Linked DNA regions of Homo sapiens: regions 1 and 3 are each linked to region 2. The links come from fine-mapping of genetic effects on gene expression. A gene starts in region 2. Each other region holds a variant in brackets. All regions are shown on one strand. Distances are from middle to middle.

Region 1 (8,725 bases), 820 kb before region 2:
AGAGCCACTCCAGAGGATGCAGGAAGATATTCCTGCAAAGCAATTAATATTGCAGGCACTTCTCAGAAGTACTTTAACATTGATGTGCTAGGTAAGAAATACATCCTTTTAAAAAACTACAATTCAGAAGCATTTCTTACCTAAAATAGAGCTGACTATATGAAAAAGTAAAGAGAAAAAGATAAATTGACAGAAAAACTATAGTTTCATTCTATTATTTTTGTCCTTATTATTTGTTAACCAGAACCATATGATATAGAAATTTTAAAGGGTTTCATTATTTATAATACAGAGATGCCTTTGAATCATATATACAGTAGTATCAAATACTCAAAAGTGGTACTGCTATCTTGTGTAAAATAAGAAATTATTACTCTTGTCAATTTCTCCAGTTAAGTAGGCACGACATTCTTTGGGAAGTGGCTATAACAGGGTGATACAGAATATATTACATTCATGCTGTGCATATCCTGAAGCTGCTAGGCTGTACTTGAACTGGAAAAGGTAGTAAATCCACTTTCCCCTGCATTCTAATTAACTCTTGTAACTAAGTCAGTCCTGATTCTAATTAAGTAGGTAGCAGCTGTAATAAATTAGGATGTAAGACATTTTAATGGTAATCATAAATTTAAAATTTTATAATTCTAGTTTGTGAAATTATATTTGCCATTTAAAATTCACTTTGTGATAAAATGACATTCTCCCTTTTCAATATTTTGCTCCTTACAATGGGCACATAATTTGTAAGTCTTGAGTAGAAGTGAGTGGAGGAATGATACTGCATAAAAATTATATTCATAAACTGCTATAACATACAAATAATTCCTCCCATTAGGCTTCTCAAAGCCTGAAATTTTTCTTCCACAAAATCACCATTATTATATTTAAGTATGAGTTATAAAAACAAATTACGAAATCATTGTTATCATGAGTCTTGCTGACATTATTTCTCCTGGTACTTGTCCGCTCCCTTGACTGAATTCCATCTGTGTGCTGATGACTCCCAATTTTTTATCTCCAGTTCAGACTTCTTCCCTGAGCCTAGGGATATATAGCTAATTTTCTCCATAGTATTGTGACTTGAATACCTTAGTTTTATATCAAACAAAAAGGTCCCAGTGAAAGCCAGTTCTGGTTGCCTTCCTTGATCCCCAGTCTAGGGACTGGTACCTCCATCCACTCACTTGGTTATTCCAGAACCTCCAGGTTCTCACTACTACCTTCTCCCCAACATTTCAAATCTACATATTTCCTGTTATGTCTACTTCCTAATTCTTTGGTGATCTACTTCTTTTCATCCTTCTGTGAAAGTCTATCATCATTCATGAGCTGAATCAATGTAATAGCCTAAGGGCTCACCTGAATCCACTTTTTGCTACTGTAATCCATTCTTCACTTAGGAGTGTGTGGTCTTAAAACACAAATATGATTACATCCCACTCCTCCCCTACTGAAATCCTTTAGTGGCTGGTCATTTTTCTGAGGATGAAGACCAAGCACTTTAACATGGTGTGAAAGGGGACGACTAGACAGGGAAGTATCCAGAAGCTCTTTAATAAGCTTGATAATCCTGAGAATAAAAACTAGCACATTATTTTTCATGTTATATTGCATACCAAATTTACCATCTTAGTTGTTTAAAAGACAAAGGTAATATATTTCAAGTAGCACCACACTATATGTAGAATTTGAATGTTATAAGAGTGATGTTAATTGTCATTCATTATCCAAAATGTATAGCAGTAGCAAATTACATTTGCATCACTGATCACTTACATTCTAAACTACTTTTGCATATGAGTTTAATACACCCAAAAATGAACCCTATACTGTCATAATTCTTGAAGGTAATTGTCTTGCTAGCAAATATTTTATAAATATGTTTCTACATTTAAATTTAACATTTGGGTACACAGAAATGATATGAAAAAGTATTGTTGTGTGGTATTTTATTTTTGACATTAAGATCTTGTTGAAATACTATAGAAATCATTGACTGCTTTCTAACCCCATGCCTGCTCTTTTTGCTGAGTAACAGAGTTTCATAATACACTGTCTTTGTTCAAGTTCCACCCACCATAATAGGTACCAACTTCCCAAATGAAGTCTCAGTTGTCCTCAACCGTGACGTCGCCCTTGAATGCCAGGTCAAAGGCACTCCCTTTCCTGATATTCATTGGTTCAAAGATGGCAAGTGAGTATCTTTTCTGTATTTGTTGCAAGGTTTCAATGATAGGAAAAAGATGTGAAAAATGCATGTGGATTTTCTCCCTCTTAATTATTTTATTACATAGAATATTATTAAATGAGCATACAGGAAAAACAATATTGCTCAAAAGCTAGTCTGAAAGTCTTGTAATTTTTTCATTCTTTTGAATTCAAAGCTCCCTATGAATGTTGGGAATTCATTTTAGAAATATAGAGGAACTCAAATTTAATATACACTAAATATCCTCTGTCTAAAGACAGTGAAAAATGTAAGATCTAAACATGAGATGATTTTCTGTTTACATTGAACTGTCTTATTAAAAAGGAAAATGTGTTTATGACAGCAAAATGAATACTAAGCTAGTTCTGTGTATGGGCAAAAAGGAACTACAGATATTTCTCCAACTCCAGATCTCAAGGACTGCTGAGGTGTGCCTACATCGAAATGGCTGCAGTGGTCTGTATTGGTTGTGAGAATTTATTTCTCAAATGGTGGTTACAGTTTGTGTATTATAGTTTCTGGGAACAGATATCTAAGGCCTAAGTAGAAAATAGTCAAGATTTGTGGTATATAAAATAAAAGATTGTATTCAAGCTTTTTATAAATCACTAATAAATACAAACAGCAAAATAGAAAATATATGGAGGATATGAACAGGCAGTTAAAATATACTAAGGCAATAAACATATTAAAAGATACCATCAATAATTTGATGAATAATAAAATTTTGTTATTTACAGCTCATATAGGCAAAAAAGCAAAGGTTTGAAATTATCAAATGTTGACTAGAGTATGGGAAAGCAAGATACAGTGCTCTGATGGGGAGGATGTAAATTAGTACCTTAAAAGGCAACTTGTTGATATCTGTTAAAATTTGATGCACATACACTGTGATGCAGTATCCAGGAGATGGAAGTAGTCATGCATATCCACAGAGAGGCTTGTACATTGATATTTACTGCAACACTGTGATGGCAAAGATGGGAAAGCTGGCTAAAACCCAACATTGGGAGAATAGGTAGATACTTTACGGCATAATCATATTATGGAACACTGCTCACCAATTAAAAAGAATAAGATCAAGTTATGTGTACCAAAAATATCTCCATACCTGTTATAGAGTGAAAGAAAAGCAGAACAATAACCTGACACCATTGATATATTAAAACTTTAGATATCTTTGGGAGTATATTTATAAACATTTTTGTTTATAAATGTTTATAAATAATTTTTTAATTGTTTAAATTGTTTATAAATGTTTATAAACAATTTTTTAATTGTTTATAAATGTTTATAAACAATTTTTTAATTGTTTATAAATGTTTATAAACAATTTTTTAATTGTTTATAAATGTTTATAAACAATTTTTTAATTGTTTATAAACGTTTATAAACAAATTTTTAATTGTTTATAAATGTTTATAAACAAATTTTTAATTGTTTAAATTGTTTATAAATGTTTATAAACAATTTTTTAATTGTTTATAAATGTTTATAAACAATTTTTTAATTGTTTATAAATGTTTATAAACAAGTTTTTAATTGTTTATAAATGTTTATAAACAAGTTTTTAATTGTTTAAATTGTTTATAAATGTTTATAAACAAGTTTTTAATTGTTTAAATTGTTTATAAATGTTTATAAACAAGTTTTTAATTGTTTAAATTGTTTATAAATGTTTATAAACAATTTTTTAATTGTTTAAATTGTTTATAAATGTAAAATAAAAACAAAAATGTGTTTAATTTTGTTAAAAACAAAAATGTTCATAAATGTAAAAAACATGGAAGAATACAAATCAGACTGATAAAGAGAAGTCTGGAAAGCAGACTCACATTAGGGGCCACAGACCAAGGATACTTTTTCTCATCATAATGCTTACTTTTTTGTTTAAAATTTTATGTTACTTGCACAATTGACAATCAATAAAAGTTTCAAAGTTACTTAAATTCGAGCAGCATATTATCAATTATTTCTTTAAAAACTTAAAATGTGGCCAGGCACC[G/A]TGGCTCACGCCTGTAATCCCAGCACTTTGGGAGGCCAAGGCAAGCGGATCACCTGAGGTCAAGAGTTCAAGACCAGCTTGGCCAACATGGTGAAACTCCGTCTCTACTAAAAATATAAAAATTAGCCATGCGTGGTGGCAGGTGCCTGTAATTCCAGCTACTTGGGAGGCCGAGGCAGGAGAATCGCTTGAACCCAGGAGGCAGAGGTTGCAGTGAGCTGAAATAGCACCATTGCACTCCAGCCTGGGCAACAAGAGTGAGACTTCATTTCAAAAAAAAAAAAAAAAACCTTAAAACACACTAAATGAAGCTACTTTATTCTCTTAACTTTTGAGAGCTATATACAAAGTGTCATACTAAGAAATAGTAAAATATGCTACCATAGGAAGTGAAATGTTTTCTGTTTAATTTCATAGTCTTACTAGTGTATTATGAATATGGCAGTGCATCTAATTATTCATTATGTGGCTAAGTCATTGCAACTTTTAAAAAACTAGCTATGGATATTCCTGAAAAAATATTTATGGACTTTAAAGGTATGAGTCTTAGGATATCATAGACTTTAACAACCAAATTTTAAAATAAAACTGCTGCCAATTACATAAACTGAGCGTTTTATAGTAGTCAGTAAATGACTCTGTATAGTAGAAAAAGACTTCCTTGACAATCATATACGAGCTTCTTTTGACATAAATATCTTTCAATATTTATGATTATGTAAGCATTTGTATTTATTACAATACTTATTTTTAGAGAAGTTGGTATGATTATTGCCTTTAGTAAAAATAACCATTCATGATATTGTGAATACTCTTCTAGATATTATAATGATATTATTTAAAAATAATATTATTTGGTCCAAAATCTATACTGTAATATTTAAAACTCTTAATTTTTCTTTTCCAGATAATGGTAGAATTTTAGCTATGCAAACCAAAAAATTTAAAAAAAGCTGAAAAAAGAATAAGAATGGATGAATGAATAAAACAAATAATGACACTACTGGATTTCTATTAATATTATTATATAATTTAAGTTTGAAATGGAGGAACTTTTCATCTCAAAGAGATATTTATGATTACCTAACTTCTGTTAGCAAAGTGGTTTAAAACTTTTATTCTTGGAGTGCTAATCATATCATTTTATTTTTTAAATTAACTTTTACTTGTATTTTTAGCCTGTACTAATGATTTTTGTTGTGATAAATAAGAAATGTGAAAAACTGAAAATAGACCCATGGAATAAAGTTTTATTTTTTCTAGGCCTTTATTTTTGGGCGATCCTAATGTTGAACTTCTAGACAGAGGACAAGTCTTACATTTAAAGAATGCACGGAGAAATGACAAGGGGCGCTACCAATGTACTGTGTCTAATGCAGCTGGCAAACAAGCCAAGGATATAAAACTGACTATCTATAGTAAGTGCGATTGTCTTATGCTTTTTATTGTCTGCTCTCATTATAAGTTGACAAGCAGGGTTTACTGGTAACTACACTCTTATTTCATACTGAATAATTTGGAATACTACATACTTCAAGAGAAGAAGGAGCTTATCTTCATGTGTTTTAAAAGGCTAGAATATTGGATCAAATTTTAATGCCTTTTTTCATTAAATATGGTTGTCTTCAAAAGATCTAGTGATTTTTATATAATCTCACTTAGAGAGAGCAAGAATTTCCTAATTGGTTAGTATATACACAAACCAAATGTCTGTATCTTTGAAAGGAACAAAACAAACTTTAAAAATTATAGAGATTTATGAAATAGAATGAAGTTGATGATATGCAGACAATTCAATTATTCTATTTGAATTCCATCGTGGCCGTTATCCTGACCATGTGATTATCTTTTAAATGCCTTATGTGTTTGTGCTACTGTTTTCTCCCAGCTATGTCCCCACCAAATATATGTAGCTCTTATTTTCCGTAACATTATCAGCCTCTTCTGAGGAGCGTGATTGCCAAATTCATTTTAATTTTTACCAGTGGAGCCATAGGTAGGCACATGAATATTATGTTTCCAGCACAAAGATTTATACAATAGAAAGGAATGGAACTCAATAGACCTGTAGTGCTCACTGCACTATCTTCTGTCTTTCCATGGTGTATGATGCTCAAGGAAAATTTAGACACCTCTTAGAATGTCACCTTCTCATAGGATCTTCCCATTAAAAGCAGTCACCTACTTACTCTCTTGTTTTCACAGCACACATCACTATCTGATATTTGATTGCTTAATTATAGGTTTATTTACTTATGATCTATTTCTTTCCCAGGAATTTAAACTTGATAAGAGTAGGCTTTTGTTTTGCATGTTCCCTACTTTAATGTTTGATACATAGCAAGTCTCAAGAAATATTTGCTAAATGAATGAATGGTCTAGTGTTACACTGTCTAATATGGTAGTCACTAGCCACGTGAGGCTATTGAGCACTTGAAATGTAGCTAGTCCAAACTAAGATGCACTGTTATATAAACTACACACCAGATATCAAAAGCTTAATATGAAAAATGTAATATATCTAATAATAACTTTACATTGATTATATCCAAAATGTTATTTTGGATATATTGGGCAAAGTAAAATGTATTATTAGAATTAATTTCCTCTGTTTCTTTCCATATTTTTTAATGTGGCTACCAGAAAACTTAAAATTACATATGTGAGTTTGCATTTGATTTCTATTGAACAACACTGGTTGAGTAATTAATAAGAGTTTGTGTTGAGGCCCAACCACTGCCACTGACTAGCTTTGTAACTGTGGATAAATTTCCTAAACCCTCTGGGCTTCAGTTTTCTCAGCCTTAAAATGGGGATAATAATAGCACCTATGCAGTAGTGTTATTGTGAAGATCAAATGCTAGATACTTTACGTGGATTATTGAGCTTATAGTAAGAGCCCAATAAATGTTATTCATTTATCATTATCTAATTAGTGATTGTATCATCTTAAAACTTAATGTACATATAGAATCTAGCTTGATTTCTATGTAATTTAATTGCTTTCCAAATCTCCCTTTTTAAATGTTACTGTCTTTATGTAAAGTTCAAATAGCTTTCTTGAATCAAAGAAATTATATTTAATACAGGCTTTTAAATCATTTATATCTATAAATAAAAGCCTTTGGAAGAAATTAGTCATGAAAAGACATGTTCTCTAAAAAAGAATAACATTGCTGAAAGATTAACTATACAAGCATCCAAGTTAAACAGAAGTGCTATTGGTACCATTGGCTTCCCACCAGAGCCAGACTTTTAAACAATAGGTGCAATATTTTTCCCAAGCTGTTGAGTAGTCTTCTCTGCACTATTGTATTTTTGCCAGGATCTGTGATGAATACATTTTGGTGATTCAATAAGACTCTTATTTCCATGGGACTTGGGTTCTTTCATTTTAGATCCTCTTGTTCACTCTGTATGATGCCCCCAGGCACCCAGAAAAGAGGGCTCTATAATGATTAAACCTTCTGAGATTGTCTGAGATAAAAGGCATTGTCATGTAGCAAAGTTTTGAATATTATAATTCAGGAAATAGTGTCATTTCCTCTTTAGCAATGCTCGCCTGCATCTCTTAGGCTTAAATTTATTTCACTTGTGAAAATGCTTTTGTTCTTAAAATGAAAAAAAAAAGTAAAACAGGTATCATGCTTTGGCTAACTGTGAAGAATACATATGTAGATTTCAGATTGAGAGTGTGTTTCATACTACACTTGATTCATTCCTTTTCCTTACTTACTGCTATGAGAATGAAGCAGGTGGGTTGATACACTTAAAAGGTATAAATGAACATTGTGCCTGAATAAGGAAAGAAACTGAGACAAAATACAAGAGAAAAATAAAAGAGATGGAGGATAAAAAAGAAAAAGAAGAATGTCAAACAGGGAAAAAAGTAAATGAAGTTTTAATATCCTATCAGGAGATTGTGCAGATTTACTAGTAGTTCTGAGGCAAAGATTTGTAAACTGTGGTCCACAGATGAGTTTTGGAGGTTTGAGAGCTTCCCTAAGTCAGCAGTCCCCAACCATTTTGGCACCAGGGTCGGTTTTGTGGAACGAAACTGTTCCACTGAACATCATCAGGCATTAGTTGGATTCTCACGAGAAGCCAGCAAAATAGAGTTCGCGCTCCTATGAGAATCTGATGCCCTCGTTGAGATGACAGGAGACAGAGCTCAGGTGGTAATGCTTGCTCGTCCGTCACCTCCTGCTGTAGGGCCCAGTTCCTAACAGGCCATGGATCCGAACCCTTCCATGGCCCAGGGGTTGGGAACTCCTGCCCTAAATTGCATAAAAGTCTTGAGGGGTGTGCGTGTCTGTGTGTGTGTCTGTGTCTGTGTGTATATATGTGTGTGTGTGGGGGTACATGGGTGTATCTATACATGCATATATATGTACAGTTTAATGAGCAGTGTATTCATAATTTTTATTTGTATTCCCTTCCCCCAAATGGAAGTATAGTTCTCTGGCAAATATGTATGAATTAAAATGGAAGAGGAAGTGAAATATTTATGT
Region 2 (8,725 bases):
AATAGTAAAGCAAGAGTACAAGTTAATATTTTGATAGTAAAATGGACAGGAAAATGCAGATATAAAAATGTGAAGATAGAAACCAGAAGATAAATAAAGGAGTTGGGTGGGTTGAAGGAAGAAAAGGGGCAAGACTCTGACAATTGCTGATGTGGAAGAGAATAGTAGAAGGTTCCTAGCCTGGGTGCTTAGGATAATGGAGGCTTTAATTATCTATTAGTAACTCCACTACCACTGCTCCCTAACAGTCAGAGATTTGGTTGACTTGGGACAAAGCTGAAAATATGGCCAAACAAAACTTGCTATGAGAGAGTGTGATACACTAGAAAAATTGTGGGCTTTGGAGTTGGACCGACTTGATTAAAATCCCAGCCTCACTACAAATTTTATATGCTTACTGAATATCGAGATTCTAAATAAAGAAAATAATGTCTCATTTCATGAATATAATGGTTAGTGATACAACAAATGTAGTACTAACACAAGTACCTGGCCCATTATAGGCTCTATATAAAGAGTAACAGTCAATCTTAGTAGTACTTTATTTGTTATAGTTTTCCTAATGTATTTATTTAAAAAGGAGGGAAAAGTTTAATTAAGCAGTAATAATTTGTTTAATGAGTTCAATTCAAAGTAAGAGAAAAGTATTGCTTCCGTTGTTTAGGTCAAAAGATCTTTGCAAATGTAGGTGTAACTACTAGTAGATATTTAGCTATAAAATATAGGTCTTATTGTTCACAGATACACTCTCCTGAAAAATGTAGTTTCATCATAACATCTGATTTTTAAATTCATGGTAAATACATTTTAATTAGGGTCCATTTCATCCTTACTTCTTGTTAGTTTTATATTGTCAGTAATTTATCAGTGTGTGTGTGGATTGGAGGGTATTAAAAAAATAAAATGTCTATTCTTTAGTAATGATGGAGATGGCAGTGGCAGGTAGAGTGCTATTTAGGTGTCAGGTTTAAGATATCTTTGACCCTGATATCATGGAAAACAAATTCAACAAACATCCATTGAGCTCCCAATGTGTTATAAACTTCAGGTGAAAAGAGGGTTTATTAACATGAGAAAGACTTGCCTTGTGCCCTGATGGAATATAAAATATTTTTTTTCTTGTATAGCCAAGTATAATACATGATCAGTGCTCTAATGAGCATTCTCATACAAGTAGAATAATGAATTCTGCTGGACAGGGAAAAGGGTAGGGAAATTTTCCAGACAAGATAGTACTTGAGCTAAGCCTTGCAGGTTGAGTAGGATTATTCTAGTGGAATTTAGGGAAACGATGTGCAAGGAGAATAGTCTCTTAGTTTGAATGAAAGGTAGAGGTCAATTAGTGGGATGCCAGAAAACTTGACAAGGTGAGAAAATCATTTTCTGTGACTTGCTATTTTACTAACCTGATTGATTTTGTTAATACCTAAAAAGAGAAATGATTCATGTTAATTATATTCACAGATACAAATAAGTAGCAAAAATATCAACTTATTATTTTACTATAAATACAGTTGGACCAGAAGACTCAAGCATAGCCTGTGGAATAGAAGGATACATTATTATAAGTAAATTAGTTGATTGGTAGCCATTTTCTGATTTTACCTGCAATCTGGATTAGATTCCCTATTCAACTCTCTCTTAGTACCCTATGCTGGCTAATCATCTTCATTTTCTATCCAGATTTAATTCTCATATACTACCTCATTACCCTGCTCAAGTTTATCAGAAACAAAGCAGTTTCATATAGTTAGAGCAGAAGATAGGTGAATTGGAAATAGTAAAAAAGATAACAGAAAACAACTCCACATAAAGAAAGAAAAATCATTCAAAAGAAGACATTTATGCAGCCAACAGACACATGAAAAAATGCTCATCATCACTGGTCATCAGAGAAATGCAAATCAAAACCACAATGAGATACCATCTCACACCAGTTAGAATGGCGATCATTAAAAAGTCAGGAAACAACAGATGCTGGAGAGGATGTGGAGAAATAGGAACATTTTTACAGTGTTGGTGGGAATGTAAACTAGTTCAACCATTGTGGAAGACAGTGTGGCAATTCCTCAAGGACCTAGAACTAGAAATACCATTTGATTCAGCCATCCCATTACTGGGTATATACCCAAAGGATTATAAATTGTGCTACTATAAAGGCACATGCACATGTATGTTTATTGTGGCACTATTCACAATAGCAAAAACTTGGAACCAACCCAAATGTCCATCAATGATAGACTGGATTAAGAAAATGTGACACATATACCCCACGGAATACTATGCAGCCATAAAAATGATGAGTTCATGTCCTTTGCAGGGACATGGATGAACCTGGAAACCATCATTCTGAACAAACTATCACAAGCACAGAAAACCAAACACCCCATGTTCTCACTCATAGGTGGTAATTGAACAATGAGAACACTTGGACACAGGGCGGGGAACATCACACACGGGGGCCTGTCGTGGGATGAGGGGCAGGGGGAGGGATAGCATCAGGAGAAATACCTAATGTAAATGACGAGTTAATGGGTGCAGTAAACCAGCATGGCACATGTATACCTATGTAACAAACCTGCACGTTGTGCACATGTACCCTAGAACTTAAAGTAAAATTAAAAAAAAGAAAGAAAGAAAAATCAATCATACAAACATCAGGGTTCCCCCTCCCAACCCCCTGGGGTTTTTGAGCCATGGCTTTTGACAAGTAGGTGTTCTTTGTTAGTTAATTTGGCCAGTTTTGGGGTTGTTCCTTTTGATTACTTATCTAGTTCTTAGCTTATTATTCTCTTTCTAAAATTTTAAAGATGTGGAAAATTACTAGCAAACTGCATGAAACTTATTAGCTGGAAATAGTGCAAATGGTAGAATTGGATTCAAAGAAGCTGCTATGATATTTCTCAGTTTCAGATGGGTCCCAGATGACTAATCTTTGTTGATGGACAAACCAAGTGGAGAGGGGTCTTCAGACATAATTGATCCTATAGACTGAAGCACGCTATGGAAGTCAGGGCCTATCTTACCTAAGGTGGAAGCAGAGGTTTTTGAAGTCAGTAGGTCAATGCTGAAAATATTTTTGGAGGAAATTGGGCAAAGTGAAGACGGCAAATCTGAACTTGTACTATCCACCTAGGGGTCTATGTGAACAGTGAGATCACAAGTAGTGAGCCAAAATAGATGAGATAAGGAGGCCATAGAACCACAAAATGGGTAAATGGGATTTGGTCTGCACTGATTCCAGAGAGGAAAAGACATACCTGCAGCAGCCTTTATTCATTATAAAGGTGGAGATAAATCAGCTTCATTTAGTAAGGCGGGAAAGAGACAAACTTCTCCCCGTATATATTAACCCTAACCATGACATATAATGACATTTTCTTTAAAAGCGTTTAAATAAATTTTTTATCTTTAATGCATGACACACTATTGGATATCATCTGGAAATATTGAGAGCTATAACTTTTTGTTATCAAAAAAGCACTAGAGCACTTTTTTTGTGCTCTATAAGCAAGCACTGTGAAGCTGCTTTTCCAGGGAGTCTTTTTTATCAGAGTCTTAGAACGAACATGCCCTGCAGTATAGATTCTTTCTTTCACCAGTTGTGTCTGGGGGAAAGAGATGAAAACTACCAGTGTGCTCTCTGCTCCTCTAATTAACATACACCTCCTTTCTAGAAATTCAGGGATTTCTTTGGAAAGAGAAATTTTTTTTTTTTTTTTTTTTTTTTTTTTTTTTTTTTTTTTTTTTTTTTTTTGAGACGGAGTCTCGCTCTGTGGCCCAGGCGGGAGTGCAATGGCGCAATCTTGGCTCACTGCAAGCTCTGCCTCCCGGGTTCACGCCATTCTCCTGCCTCAGCCTCCCAAGTAGCTGGGACTACAGGCGCCCGCCACCACACCCGGCTAATTTTTTGTATTTTTAGTAGAGACGGGGGTTTCACCGTGTTAGCCAGGATAGTCTCGATCTCCTGACCTCGTGATCCGCCCGCCTTGGCCTCCCAAAGTGCTGGGATTACAGGCGTGAGCCACCGTGCCCAGCCCGAAAAATGTTTATTATAAATCTATCCTTCCTAAAAAAGACATTACTGGCTTTTTTTTTTTTCAAAGAGAGATTTATAATATGCCAGGTTGAATTTAGGGGAAAAAAATAAAAACAAATAAGAGTTGAATGTTGGGCTACAGAAAGCAGATATTCCAGAAGATTTAGTGAAATTATATTCTTTGAAAATATTGTAAGAGAGTTAGGAGAGTGAGTTCAGTATTTAATTAAAGGCAAAAACAAGATCCTGTGTTTGAAAAACAAGATATACTAAATGAACATGTCAATCTTTAAAGACATGAATTGATTCTCATGGAATTTGGGTACATTTAAACAATGCACCTTCTTCATTACAGTGCTATAAGGTATTTGGATTTACACTGCAAATTTGGAATTCAACCTGATTTCATTTTCTTCCCTAAATCTCAACATATATATTACATTATTTGGTATGCCTTTAATCTTAAATTTACAAAGAAATTATTATCAACACAGGTGTTCTGAGTCTGGAGTGGAAATATTTAAACAGATTTGATTTTTAAAGTGGTCTGATACTCATTTTTTAAAAATGTACATTTTTATATTTGGGGTTTGTTATAAACTTTGCCTTTTTAAATAATGCAAAAATGCTCTAGGTTATTCACTGTCTTTTCAATTTTGTTCTCCTTTGGAAAAAAGGAGGAAGTAGTTACTACTTAAGGACAAGTAGCAATTTCAGACGCGCGCACGCACACACACACACACACACACACACATCACACACACAGAAATCCACAACAGCACTCATGGAATTTAGGACTGATTAATTTACATATTATTTAAGCATATTTTCTGACTTCAAACTCCTGGTTCTAATAACTAAGCATTTACATTTACAATATTAGCTTCTATGAGAAGAGAGCGTTCTCCCTCTTCCCCTTTAATTCCACCTTAAAACATCTGCAAAAGCGCAAGGAGACCAGCCCACATTTTAGCCCCTCCTACTCAGGATAAGACTTTCTCTAAGTCCGGAGCTGAAAAAGGATCCTGACTGAAAGCTAGAGGCATTGAGGAGCCTGAAGATTCTCAGGTAACTCTGGGAACTGTAAGCAATATATTTATTCTTCCTCTGCTCCACTTCTCTCTCCCACCCTCCTTAGCTTTTACTTGGTAGTTTACTTGGAAGGAAGAAAGGACGGAGGGGAAACCTCGCTGCTTTAAAAAGTCAGCATGTCCTCTGCCTTTTGAAGTGAAACACAGATTAGGGACCTCAATTTTCTTCAAACCCACGCAGATTTGCCTTCCTGGATCTAAATGCACTGTGGAGTCAAAGATTAAGGTGTTTCTTTGGGTTGGAATCCCAGAAAGTTAGCATTCAAAACGGCGGTGAGGTGGCGCTTATTAGCGTTCCACGTGATGACACCCAATGGTTACTGATCCCCAAACTTGAGCAGCAGCATGCTGTGCTGTTTGACAGCCCTAGCGATCTTTAGCGAGAGACTTTGTTGACTCACTTAACTTTTAATTTCTAAAAATTGGTCATTTTTGTTACTTATGGGACGCTTTCCTGGCTAGTCAATATTTTGCAGAATTATGCGAAAGAAAGAGGATTATTGAAAAATTAACTGTAAACGGACTGGTGTTCTGATGATCCACCCTTCCCCTAAGTTACTTGGCTTGCCAAGAGAAAAAAAAAATCTCAAAACTAGATACTAGAAAAGATTTGATCAAATTACATAGTTAAATTTTGAGTGTGGATATTTCAGTAATTTTGTTTCCAAAAAAAACAGAAAAAAAAGGTATTTGATTTTAAAGTATCAGTGGATGAATGTATCTGTCTCCTACAATTTATAATCATTTTAGTCTTAAAAATAAATTCACCTCCAAAACCAGAACAAGAAATACTCCTCATATGGGTTGATGATGTCAGCATTTATTCAGCTAAGGCAGATGGAGAGTATTAGAGGCGTACTGTCTGAATGGGTGTCAATTCTAAAGTTATATTTGCCAATATAATTTGAGTTCAAAGAAGATTTGTATTTTTGTTTCTCTTTGTTGTTTAAATTTAGAATTGTGGCTCAAGGGATATTTGTAGAGGACTGTAGTGAAACAAGCTCTGTTAAGAATTTTAAAGTTACATTCTACAGGTTCCTACACCTTGCCAATCAAGTTAGAGGTTGGGATAAGAAACAGGTATTTACTTCTTTCATTAGCTCCGGAAGAGTTAAATTTTAAATTAAGCAATAATTGTGAAATGCATAGAGAAGTGTTTAATGTGCATTTGCTCAAAGGAGTTTTACAAACTTCCCTTAGGGGAAGCATATTTTTTGAGATAAGACATTGCATCTTTTTAACATATTTTTAAAAAGTAAGTTATTCTGGCTGGGCGCAGTGGCTCATGCCCGTAATACCAGCACTTTGGGAGGCCGAGGCGGGTGGATCACTTGAGGGCAGGAGTTCGAGACCAGCCTGGCCAACGTGGTGAAACCCCATCTCTACTAAAAATAGAAAAACTAGCCGGACGTGGTGGCAGGTGCCTGTAATCCCAGCTACTTGGGAGGCTGAGGCATGAGAATCGCTTGAACCCAGGAGGTGGAGGTTGCAGTGAGCCAAGATCGCGCCATTGCACTCCTGCCTGAGCGAAAACAGCGAAGCTCTGTCTCAAAAAAAAAAAAAAAAAAAAAAAAGTAAGTTATTCTGAAGTGTTTTGCATTTTTGCATTTACATTTAATTAGGAAAAGAAAAATTATTAAATAGATTTTTAGCAACTGAAAATGTTCATTCCATAGAGGTTATTTGGCTTATGTTTTTAACCCATTATCTTTTCTAGTGCTGGTACTTAGAAAGCAGTCATAAAATCGAATCATCTACATATTAAAATTATGTTCCAGGAATAAAAAAGAGGAAGACAGAATTAGTTGTGGTTCCCATTCATCTTGTTTGCTTTTATTTACCATCAGTTTTTTCCTCCTTCTTGCTCCAGATTGTATAGCTTGCTTGCTTGCTTGCTTGCTTTCTTTCTTTCTTTCTTTCTTTCTTTCTTTCTTTCTTTCTTTCTTTCTTTCTTTCTTTCTTTTTCTTTCTTTCTTACTTTTTCTTTCTTTTCTTTTTCTTTCTTTTGTTTTTGTTCCATCAAAGACACTTTTATAATCTTGTGACAGGTATGGACCCCTCCCTAGAATAATGCACATTATGCCATTCCAACACACACAAATTTAAAAACACCTTTAAGAAGTTCACAAATCCCCAAAGACAATTCATATTACATGAAAATGCAGTATTTCTTAAAACTTTGGAGTTTTCTGATAATATAAAATGATTAATTATAAAATCATTTTACTTATAAGTAAGGAACTAACAGTGGATATTGTAGCACCCACATAGTCATTTATTCATTGGTATTCTAGAACTCCAAGCAACTTGGTATAATGGAAAAAACTGCTTGCCTGAAACCAGGTGACCTAGGTTCTAGACTCAACCCCAATAATAATTAACTGTACAATATTACGCTTGACATTTTTCTGTAACATCTGTTGCTTTTATTGCCGAATGCAGTAAGTGAAACATAATAAGAAAATCAGATGCAAGTTATTTTTTATTGGATTGTGGGGTGTCTATATTTACTACTTTTATTCCAAAATTCCTAATGACATTTCCCAGAATGATTAGTTTTTATAACACTATTGTTTATTATAAAGATAAATCACACTCACTGCTTAAAATTTCATTAAATATAGAAAATTGCAAGGAAGAAAAAGAAAATATTACCTATTATTTCCCCCAAGGTACTTTTAAAATGTAATTCAATCATTAATTCAATCAACAAATATCTATTGAGTACCCAGTATGCATCAGCAAAGAGACAGACAAGAAGTTCATGTATATACATGTTTATATGTCTAGATATGTTTCTATACATACATGTAGTTTTACAAAATTGTGATCACACTGTTCATGCTGTTTTGTAACATGCTTCTCCCTCATTCATGAGATGCATTGTTAAAACATGTTTTTTTTAATAATCATGCATTACTTTGTATTCACATATTTAACAAATATTATTAAGTCCCTACTGTGTGTAATGCAAGTAATGGCAATCTATCCATGAGCAAAAGAGTATGGTTCTTACTATATGAAATTTTTCATCTGTATATAGGCTGTACTGGCCAATTATATCTTGTTGGATATTTAGATAGATTAGTTTTCCACTATTATAAATAATTGTTGGATATTTAGATTTATAATAGTTTTCCACTATTATAAATAATATTTCATCTAGGACCTTTTTTATATATGTTAGTATACATTTTTGTTTATTTCCTTATGGTAGATTCTTAAAGTTTATTTTCTAGGTTCTAAAAAAAATTTTATTACTTACAAGTTGTGAGATGATAATCCAATTACTTTATCTCCTTAAAATGTTGTCTTCTCAATTGTAAAATAGAAATAATAATAGTTGGGTATTTTGAGGATTCTTTAAAATATTTAGCGAAATCTCATGGAATGCTAGTGATTATTTTTGACATTTTGCTCTTGAGGAATATGGTATTCATTTATGAGCAATATAAAAGAGTAGAGTTTTCTATGTCAATACTGGGTGCCATCATCAAACAGAGCAAATGACAACAAATCCAACAACTTGGATAATTGATATACGAAAATAGTATCTTGTTTAAATTTACATTTCTTTGTTGAACAAAGTTGAGCA
Region 3 (8,725 bases), 150 kb after region 2:
ACATTAGATATAGAAAATTATTTTCATGCCTATTGCATTATAAAGCTCTTGAAGCCTAATACTAGCATGCCTTTTATTAAAAGTAAGAGAGACTATAACTGTAAAATAATTAATTCTAACTTGTAGTTTCTATCTGTTGTATTTTATATTACTTGCTTCAATAATTTTTTAAGATTCTGGAGGTTTACCTACATGCTTATATGCCATCCTTCTCCCTAATCTTCTCCCTAATCTTAAAAATAGGTTTTATGTAATGAGAAACATTGTAGAATAGAAAGCACATATTCTTGGTTTGCATAGAGACAAAAGAAATCTGACTTCCTCTAATGACAAGTCAATTTATTATTTTATGTATATATGTATGTGTGTTCGTATTTTAATAAATAAATGTGTTGTTTCATATATTTAAAATATATATTTATATTTTTTTACATGTAAATGAATGAAATGGCATATATATGCTATCATACTGTGTTTTGAATATATTTCTGTTATTTACAAATAACATTTATTTACAATATTCATTTCTATGGTATTTATTTGTCATTCCTCTCCTTCAAGTCTTCTTAGTGGTGTTTCAGTACTCAAAAATGAGGGCATCCAGCCTGGCCAATATGGTGAAACCCCTTCTCTACTAAAAATACAAAAATTAGCCAGGTGTGGTGGCACACACCTGTAGTCACAGCTACTCAGGAGGCTGAGGCAGGAGAATCGATTGAACCTGGGAGGCAGAGGTTGCAATGAGCCAAGATCAGGCCACAGCACTCCAGCCTGGGCAGCAGAGTGAGACTCTGTCAAACAAAACACCAAAATGAGCACAGACATCTTACGAAGTATCTCTTTGAAGGATACTGTCAAATTTTTATCCCACAGAAAGTCAGTTTAGTTAATACTATGTAAGTTTATCTTAAGTTAGTCTATGGAAGTGTGAAGTATCTGAGGTGTCAAACAATAACCAAAATGGATAGCTATCATAGAACACAATTCCGGCATATCGCTGTAATTTGTGGAGCAGCAATTTTTTTGTTCACTGAAATCTTTTAAAATACTTTCTAAAAACTATTGCACTTTACTCATAGTCTGTGTCATTGTTTCTCAGCTTTTACAGAGAGAAACCAGACATCAGAGAGGAAATGGTTTATCCATGCTATAATCACTGTATTTGCAATCATCTGTTTTTAATCTTTTCCACATCAGGATCACATAAGGAAAGGGAAAGTTTCCATCTCTTCCTGATTCTAGCGTGAAGTGAACCATCTAAAAATAGCCTCACTGTTACCTCATGTATTTCCCTTTTCATTTTACCCCAAAATCCACACATCACTGGTCATACCCTTGAGTCATGTTTGTAAACACTAGAAAGCTCTTTCTTTTCTTTGCCCTCACGCAATTGCTCCACAATGTGAACTTTTGGTTTATTTTGATGTTGAATAATCACGAGTGAATAATTGTGAACAGTGCTGGACAAGAAATAACAAGCTGATTAATTTAGCTGAATAGAGGGAAAAAAAGAAGAGATTGGTGATAAAAGCTTTCTCAAGTTTCAAACAAGAAATTATTTACATACATATGGGATTTTCAGTGAAATGTAATTGTATTTATCATAATAGTTTATGAAGCAAATGCTTTCATATACATTAAATCCTTTGTTCTCCTAGATTTTTATTCATAAGTGGTGTTGAGAGAGTTGATCAACATAAAATTCATGACATTCCAGAAGCAAAAAGAGCAGTGAAAGTTCAATGAAAAGTGTATTTTTCTCTGAATGTAAGCCTGTATGATAAAGTACTTGTTTTCTTCTAATGTAAACTACTGAGGTCTTTATACATTTTATCATTTAATCCTCTCAGCAATCCTATGAGAAAGGCGATGGTATTAGCTTTATTTTACAGAGGTAGAAAAATGAATTGCTGAGAAATAAGAAACAGATGAAATAGAGATGAGATGGGATTGGGAGCCTGCTATGTCAGGGATAGTGAATAATCTAGTCTGTGTTTGTTCGTTCCTCATTATCTCTGCGTTGCCTGTAGGGGAGTATCACTGTACACTGCAGCCACCAAAAATAATTTGTTTCTTGTTGAGCTGTGGTGTCTAATTAGTTTGTCTCAGGTCATCCAGCTAGCAAGTTTTAGGGTGTCTGTCTTAGAGCTGGGCCTTTCACGCTGCACAACCCAGGCCCACAATCGTGCAGCACCTTCCTGCCTTTATCATACTTTTCTATAATATCTATTTATCTTTTCTGTTGATTTATAAACTCCAAATCTTCAAGGACAGCCTATCTCTTATGCTTAGAACATAACTCACTGATAATTGTTGGCTGAATTAACAAATACTCTGAGGAAATTGTCCAGGTGTACTGCAAAGTCTCACCTTGTATTTTTTCCTGGCATTTATCACAGTTTTAAGCACAAAGGGTTATTTGATTGCTATCTCTCGCCCAACAGGCTATAAATCCCATAACAACAAAAACCATGAATGTTTTACTCACTGTTATGTCCCCACTTCTAACATGGAACCTAGTCGACCACTATTGATTGCTGTGGAATGGATCAACGAGATGACAAGAGTAGTTAAAAAGAACTTAAGATTCTAGTGACAGTATCCCCAAAACTTCCCCTTTCCAGGAATTTTCCTCTCTAATGTTCTTATCTCTCTTCCCTTTCTTTATCCTCTTTTGTTTTCCTTACTTTTTTCCTTCCATCTCTTTTCTTCTCTTTACTGGCATTTATTTATTAAACATTTGCATAGCACTTAATATGTAGTAAGCACTGTTTTAAGCACTGTAAAGTATTAATTTATTTAATTCTAATAGCAACCCTATGAGATAGGTATTATTTATATCATCCACATTTTAAATCTGAGATGGAAACATTGACTTAAGAAACATGTCCAAGGCCATGGAGCTTGCATTTGGACTCAGGCATCTGGTCCCAGAATCTGTGCTTCTCCCACTATGATATTCTGCTTCTTATTTATTCTGCTCTCCCTGAAGATGCACATAATGGAAATGAGGTCTCTTCACTGCATCTCTCCATATTGATTTATGTTCTCCAGTTTAAATTTAATTTTGGGGGTGCTTACCCCAGTGAGTTAGCCTGCTTTGGTGCAGAGACAAACCAACCTCGAATCTCCGTAGCTGACTGCGAACACGTATTTCTTGGCCACTTACATGCCAGCAGTCATAAATCACCCGTGGAGGCTCTGTTCTATTTCTCTTCTCATTCTGGCGGGAATGTATAACCAGCTTACCAGGAAGGGAGCTAATACATGGAAACCATCATACAATTTGCCACGACCATTAACTAAGCCCTTGGTACATCTGTACAGTCCTCTCTTGGCCGTTACATGTAATAGCAATGCTCTGAGGCCAAAGGTTCAACTTCTGTTCACAAAAAGAAGACAAAAAGCTGATTCAGAGTAACTCAAATATTTTTGTATACATAAAATGAATGAAGTTTTGGCTGGTACTTTTTAACACTTTGGTGGAGATGATACAGGTAAAAATCCAGTAACAGGATTCTTCTCTGCATCATCAGATTCCTTTTTTACTCCTAAGGGTTAAAAAAACTTTCACATGGTTATAAATTCTCTGAACCCATAATTTTTTTTCTCTAGCAGCTTCTTCAACATAATTTTGCTCAGTTCAGTTTATCAATAATTTTTCAAATGCCTGCTGTGGAGCTAGCCTTGTGCCAAGAATTAACATAACAATAGTGAGTTTGTTTTCAATTTCTTTGAAATTAATGAACTTCCTGAGAACAGGGTCGTGATTCATCCTAGCAAGGAGTACATTGCTGGCACACAGTAGACACCTAGTGAACACTGAATTATGGTCAGACCAACTGAATCAATGAAAACTGAAAATTTCCAAATTCATCTTTCCATCTTTCCCATAGGAACTTCTACTTGCAGAAAAGTGGGCTAAAATGAACAAGCTCCCCTTTCCAAAGATTGATCCTTATGTGTTTGATCGGGAAGGGCTGAAGGAGTGCTATGTCTTTAAACCCAAGAATCCTGATATGGAGAAAGATTGCCCAACCATCATCCACTTTGTTCTGGCCAACATCAACTTCAGAAAGTACAGGGCTCCAGGTAAGTAGGGAGTAAGCTGTATTCCATAAAATAGAAATTAAGTAGGGGACGAAACTGACATTAAACTGTTTCACTCTGTCACTGCTGTACCAGCTATTACACTATTGAATGCTTCCCTTACCTTGATAAATAGATACTATTCTGAGACCTCAAGTACTTCTCCTCTTTCTTACCCCAAGATCCCCTGACTTGCTCACAGTTCAGAAACTGCAAAGTCAACAACCAGTTTAGCAAAAATCTCTGGGACTTTACTTCAATACTTTGAATTATGTTTGTTCTGATTGATTTTTAATCAAATATTTTGACTATCACCCTTGTAAGAAAGCCCTTATTTCAGAAAAATCATGCAAATTTCTGGGAATTTTACGTGACTACAAGATTAACGTAATCTAGCAGTACACAATGGCTAGCAGTTTCAGTTTGCCATGTTGTATTTCACAGAAAACAAGAATCAAGTTTGAGGCATAGTCTTTTTTGTTTTGTTTTATTTTTTTAACCATATCCAGAGGGGTCTCTCGACTCTTGTGTATCCTGGAAAATGTTGATTAACCAAAGGAGATCTAAAGATTTACATGCAGGGTGCTTAAGGCTCCAAAAACCATATTTTAGGACCAGAAAATGTGTTTTCCATTTTATAAATGGAAAGACACAAAAAATAGGGAGGATGAGTAATGGGAATATGCTGAGAAAAATGGTGTTTTTCTAGATTTCTCAGGAAGACAAAGAAAGAATTGATAGGAGTGAAGATTATTGTGAAGCATATAGTTCAGCATAGGAGAAGGTGGAAATCTGACATTTTTAGTTATCAGACACTAGAGCACATGAAACCCAGTGAATTTTCTATCACTGTGAATTCTCAAGGAGAGGCTCACTGAGCAGTTGGCATGTGTAGGGGATTTCCATGGCATAAAGACAGCCACATAATGTTTTAGTTTGGGTTCTCCCAGAAACTAATTCTGAGAAAAGGACTCAAGTGCAAATAGTTTATTTAGATGAGCTGGGGAACACTCTAGTTTATTAGTAAGGAAATGGGGAAGTGGTAAAGGGAAGGAAGGCAGACAACAAAGTTGCATTAGCAAGCCGGCTACCACAATGGGAACTTGATC[C/T]GCTGGGAAAGACTACAAAATGGAATAGACCTGTGTCCCACAATCATGCTTCCCACACGCACACCAAAAGGCAGGGGAATGGAGTATTTAGATTCTAACTCCCTAGAGTCTTTGGTTGACCACTGCCTGGGGAACAGTGTTATTTAACAGAATTTCCAGCCTGCTGTGAGTGGGTCAAGCAGGCTTCTACAGTTGCAGGGCAGGATAGAAAGCCCTCCGGCACACAGATGTCAGATATTGGCAGTTGGATGTCATCTGGCCAGAACACACAGACACGATAAAAGTCAGAGATGCTACAGAGTACCTGGCTCTGTGGGGACTCCCACTGCTGTCTTTATGTCTGTATGTTTTATTCCTTGGGTTTTAGAGATATTTTGTAGTTTTCAAAATAACACCCTTTGTGACTCTTCTGGTATTTAGGTGTTCCAAGGGAAACTGAGGAAGAGAAAGAAATCGCTGACTTTGATATTTTTGATGACCCAGAATCACCATTTTCAACCTTCAATTTTCAATATCCAAATCAAGCATTCAAAAGACTACATGATCTTATGCACTTCAATACTCTGAACAACATTGATGTAAGTATCTCCTATGGCCATTGACTATGTCAAATGACTTCCATACCGTATAAATACACCAATACCTCTTTTCAATTAAAAATAAAAAAATAAGTGTTATGAATGACACCACCCAAAATATGCCACTTTACTTTTCATGAAATATTTTGCTAATCTTCAGAAGAACCCTACAAAACTGACAAATAAGGAAACTCATTTTATGCTATTATTTTATTGAATGATTGGTTAATACTCAGTTTCTTTCCCGAAGTATCTATGTATTTATTATATGATATAACAAATTATAAGTAAGGAAGAAAAGTGATGAAAAGGAAATATGAGTAAAGGAAATATGAGTATGAAAGTGAATGGAACCAGAAGTGTAGTTAATCTGCAAAAATATAACATGAATTTTAATAAATACATTTATGATTTTACATATTTTCTTTTTGTGAATTTGAGAGCAGCATCACAAAACGTAACAGCATTTCCTTTTTTTTTTTTTTTTTTTTTTGAGATGGAGTCTCGCTCTGTCGCCCAGGCTGGAGTGCAGTGGCGCAATGTCGGCTCACTGCAAGCTCCGCCTCCCAGGTTCACGCCATTCTCCTGCCTCAGCCTCCCGAGTAGCTGGGACTACAGGCGCCTGCCACCACGCCCGGCTAATTTTTTTGTGTTTGTAGTGAAGACGGGGTTTCACCGTGTTAGTCTCCATCTCCTGACCTCGTTACCCGCCCGCCTCGGCCTTCCTAAGTGCTGGGATTACAGGCGTGAGCCACCGCACCCGGCCAGCCTTTCCAATTTTTAGCCTTTGAGATGTCAAGTATGCTTTGCTTTAGAAACAAATCATTGTCTTCAGTATCAATCCTTCCTATCATTAGTGTATCTTCTGCTAAGATTCTGTGTCTAGGTGAAATTCTTTCATTTTTAACTTACCATATAGGAACACTATTCTGTAACTGAAATCATTGACTTGTGGTTCCAAATCATAGTGTCTGACAAATGATTATCAGTTGTAAAAGCTTAAGTTCAGTGGCCTAATTGGATTTTGTACATTAGAAAAACAGAAAAAAAGAAATTAAATGGAGAAGGAAAGGCATCATGTCTGATTTACCAGTCTTTTTGGTGACTGTGTAAATGGCGCAAAGGAATTCAGAATATGTGAATGAGTGTTCTGTTTATATGGGCTCTAATTAGATTTTGTGAGCTAATAGAACTCCACACATCTAGTTTGCTTGCTTGTTTCGTTTGGCCTGAGACTAGTAATATCAACTGTATGCAATCATCACAGTTGCACCATAATATATTTGTTAATTAATATCTTTAATTTTTGTAAATGTGTAAAATTTTCCCCAATAAGCCTTGATTCTTACAACTCTAAAATTCTTTTTTTCAGCCTTCATTTACAAATAGATGATAATTCATCTAAAAATGCTTATCAAAATATATAGCATATGTCATTTTCTCCATAGATTTGTTTCCTTTTTAGAAAAAATATTTCAAGCAGTGGACATCTGAAATCCACGTGATACATTATCTCTATGGTGATGGCAAAAATTGAAAGGTTAAGAGAAAAAATGATTAATCTCTGATTTGTAGGGAGTGAACATAAATTCTCAAAATAGAGTTAGTTGCATTTTATAAAACCTCATGCTACTAAAACAGAGGTAAGAATTAATATCACAGTCACCCTAGTTTTCCAGTATGAGCCAATAAACTCAAAACTACACATTCCTTGGGATGAATTGTATTAAATTTGATAAGTCTTTCTCAAATGGAAAAAACAGATTGTAGGAATATACAAATACCATGTTGGACTTGGGAGTAGATATACATATGTGTATCTTAACCAAATACATTTGTCTTGCTGTTCTAGTTTATATAAAGTCTGCTAAACAATTTGCAATAAGGAATGATACAGTTTTATTTATATATTTTACAAACATTCTTCAAAGTAGTTTGTTTGACACATAGATGTAAAAGTTAGTGCCTGAACAAAAATAGACTGAATCCCAGAACAACTGTCCCGACCTATACACCTCATCAAATGTTGATTCTTCAGAAACCATTAATTTAGCAGTTTTAAAAATATGTTTTCACTTTTTATTGTTATAAAATATACAAAATATAAAATTTATCATTTTAACCATTTTTAAGTGTACAGTTTAGTGGCATTAAGTACATTGCATTATCGTGCAACCAACCCCACCATCTATCTCCAGAACATTTTACATCCTCCCAAACTAAAACTCTGTAACCATTAACTAGTAAGTCCCCATTTCCCCTGCATTTTTAGTAACAATACCATCAGGTTTTTATAAGAAGATTGATAAATTCATTAAAAAATAATATGAAAGTGAAAAGGACCAAAGTAGGCTAACTCATCTTGAAGAAAGAAAGCGAAGTTAGAAGACTTACTTTACCAAATAGAAAGACAGCAAGATAACATTAAGAAAACATGACATTGTCCAAGGACAGACAGTAGCACTAAATAAAATCGTCCTTGAATAAATTGTGACTATCTGTAATAAAAAAAGTGATCAGATGATTATTCACAAAGGAAAAAATTAAATGTACCTCTTTCACATTATCAACAAAGCCAATATCAGATAGACTGTAGATCTGAGTATAAAAGTAAACAAAGCTTCTAGAATACAACACAGGGGAGTATCTTTATGACTTTGACCCTGGGAAATATTCTTTAAACTTGACGCTAAAAGCATTAGCCATAAAGGGCAATCTTTCCTGTATCTCCAAGTCCTTTAGTTCTGAGAATTAAGCAGTTTTTAATTGCTTCTGCTACAGTTTCTGGCACAGCATGTACAGACAAGGTCATGGGCGTTATATCATCTTTAAATCTCTTACATGTGACTTTGAATAAGCTGCTTAAACTTTTTGAGCCTCCACTTCCTCGTCTCTGAAACAGGTGTGGTAGGATCTATAATAATTGTAGTAGTGAATGTTTAATTGGGT

Which allele goes with the higher level. Alleles are on the strand shown, and positions count from the first base shown. SD is a standard deviation of normalised expression in the study named. Not every link is listed here.
With allele G in place of A in region 1, the expression in putamen of the gene that starts at base 5,021 in region 2 is lower (moderate effect, 0.62 SD a copy in GTEx).

The links. PIP is the estimated chance that this variant, and not a neighbour inherited with it, causes the effect.
Region 1: its variant is fine-mapped to the expression of PLA2G4A in putamen (GTEx, PIP 0.94).
Region 3: its variant is fine-mapped to the expression of PLA2G4A in whole blood (TOPMed, PIP above 0.99).

The regions. Positions count from the first base shown.
Region 1 is chr1:186,001,651-186,010,375 of GRCh38, forward strand. It overlaps HMCN1 (hemicentin 1), which reads left to right. Exons shown (of 107, transcript NM_031935.3): 28 at 1-91; 29 at 2,068-2,194; 30 at 5,478-5,632. Among named protein-coding and RNA genes, the nearest start is that of HMCN1, 270 kb to the left of the region's middle. The variant G/A (reference allele first, on the strand shown) is at 4,215.
Region 2 is chr1:186,823,929-186,832,653 of GRCh38, forward strand. It overlaps PLA2G4A (phospholipase A2 group IVA), which reads left to right and starts at 5,021. Exons shown (of 18, transcript NM_024420.3): 1 at 5,021-5,107.
Region 3 is chr1:186,973,697-186,982,421 of GRCh38, forward strand. It overlaps PLA2G4A (phospholipase A2 group IVA), which reads left to right. Exons shown (of 18, transcript NM_024420.3): 16 at 3,897-4,092; 17 at 5,619-5,776. Among named protein-coding and RNA genes, the nearest start is that of LINC01036, 110 kb to the right of the region's middle. The variant C/T (reference allele first, on the strand shown) is at 5,199.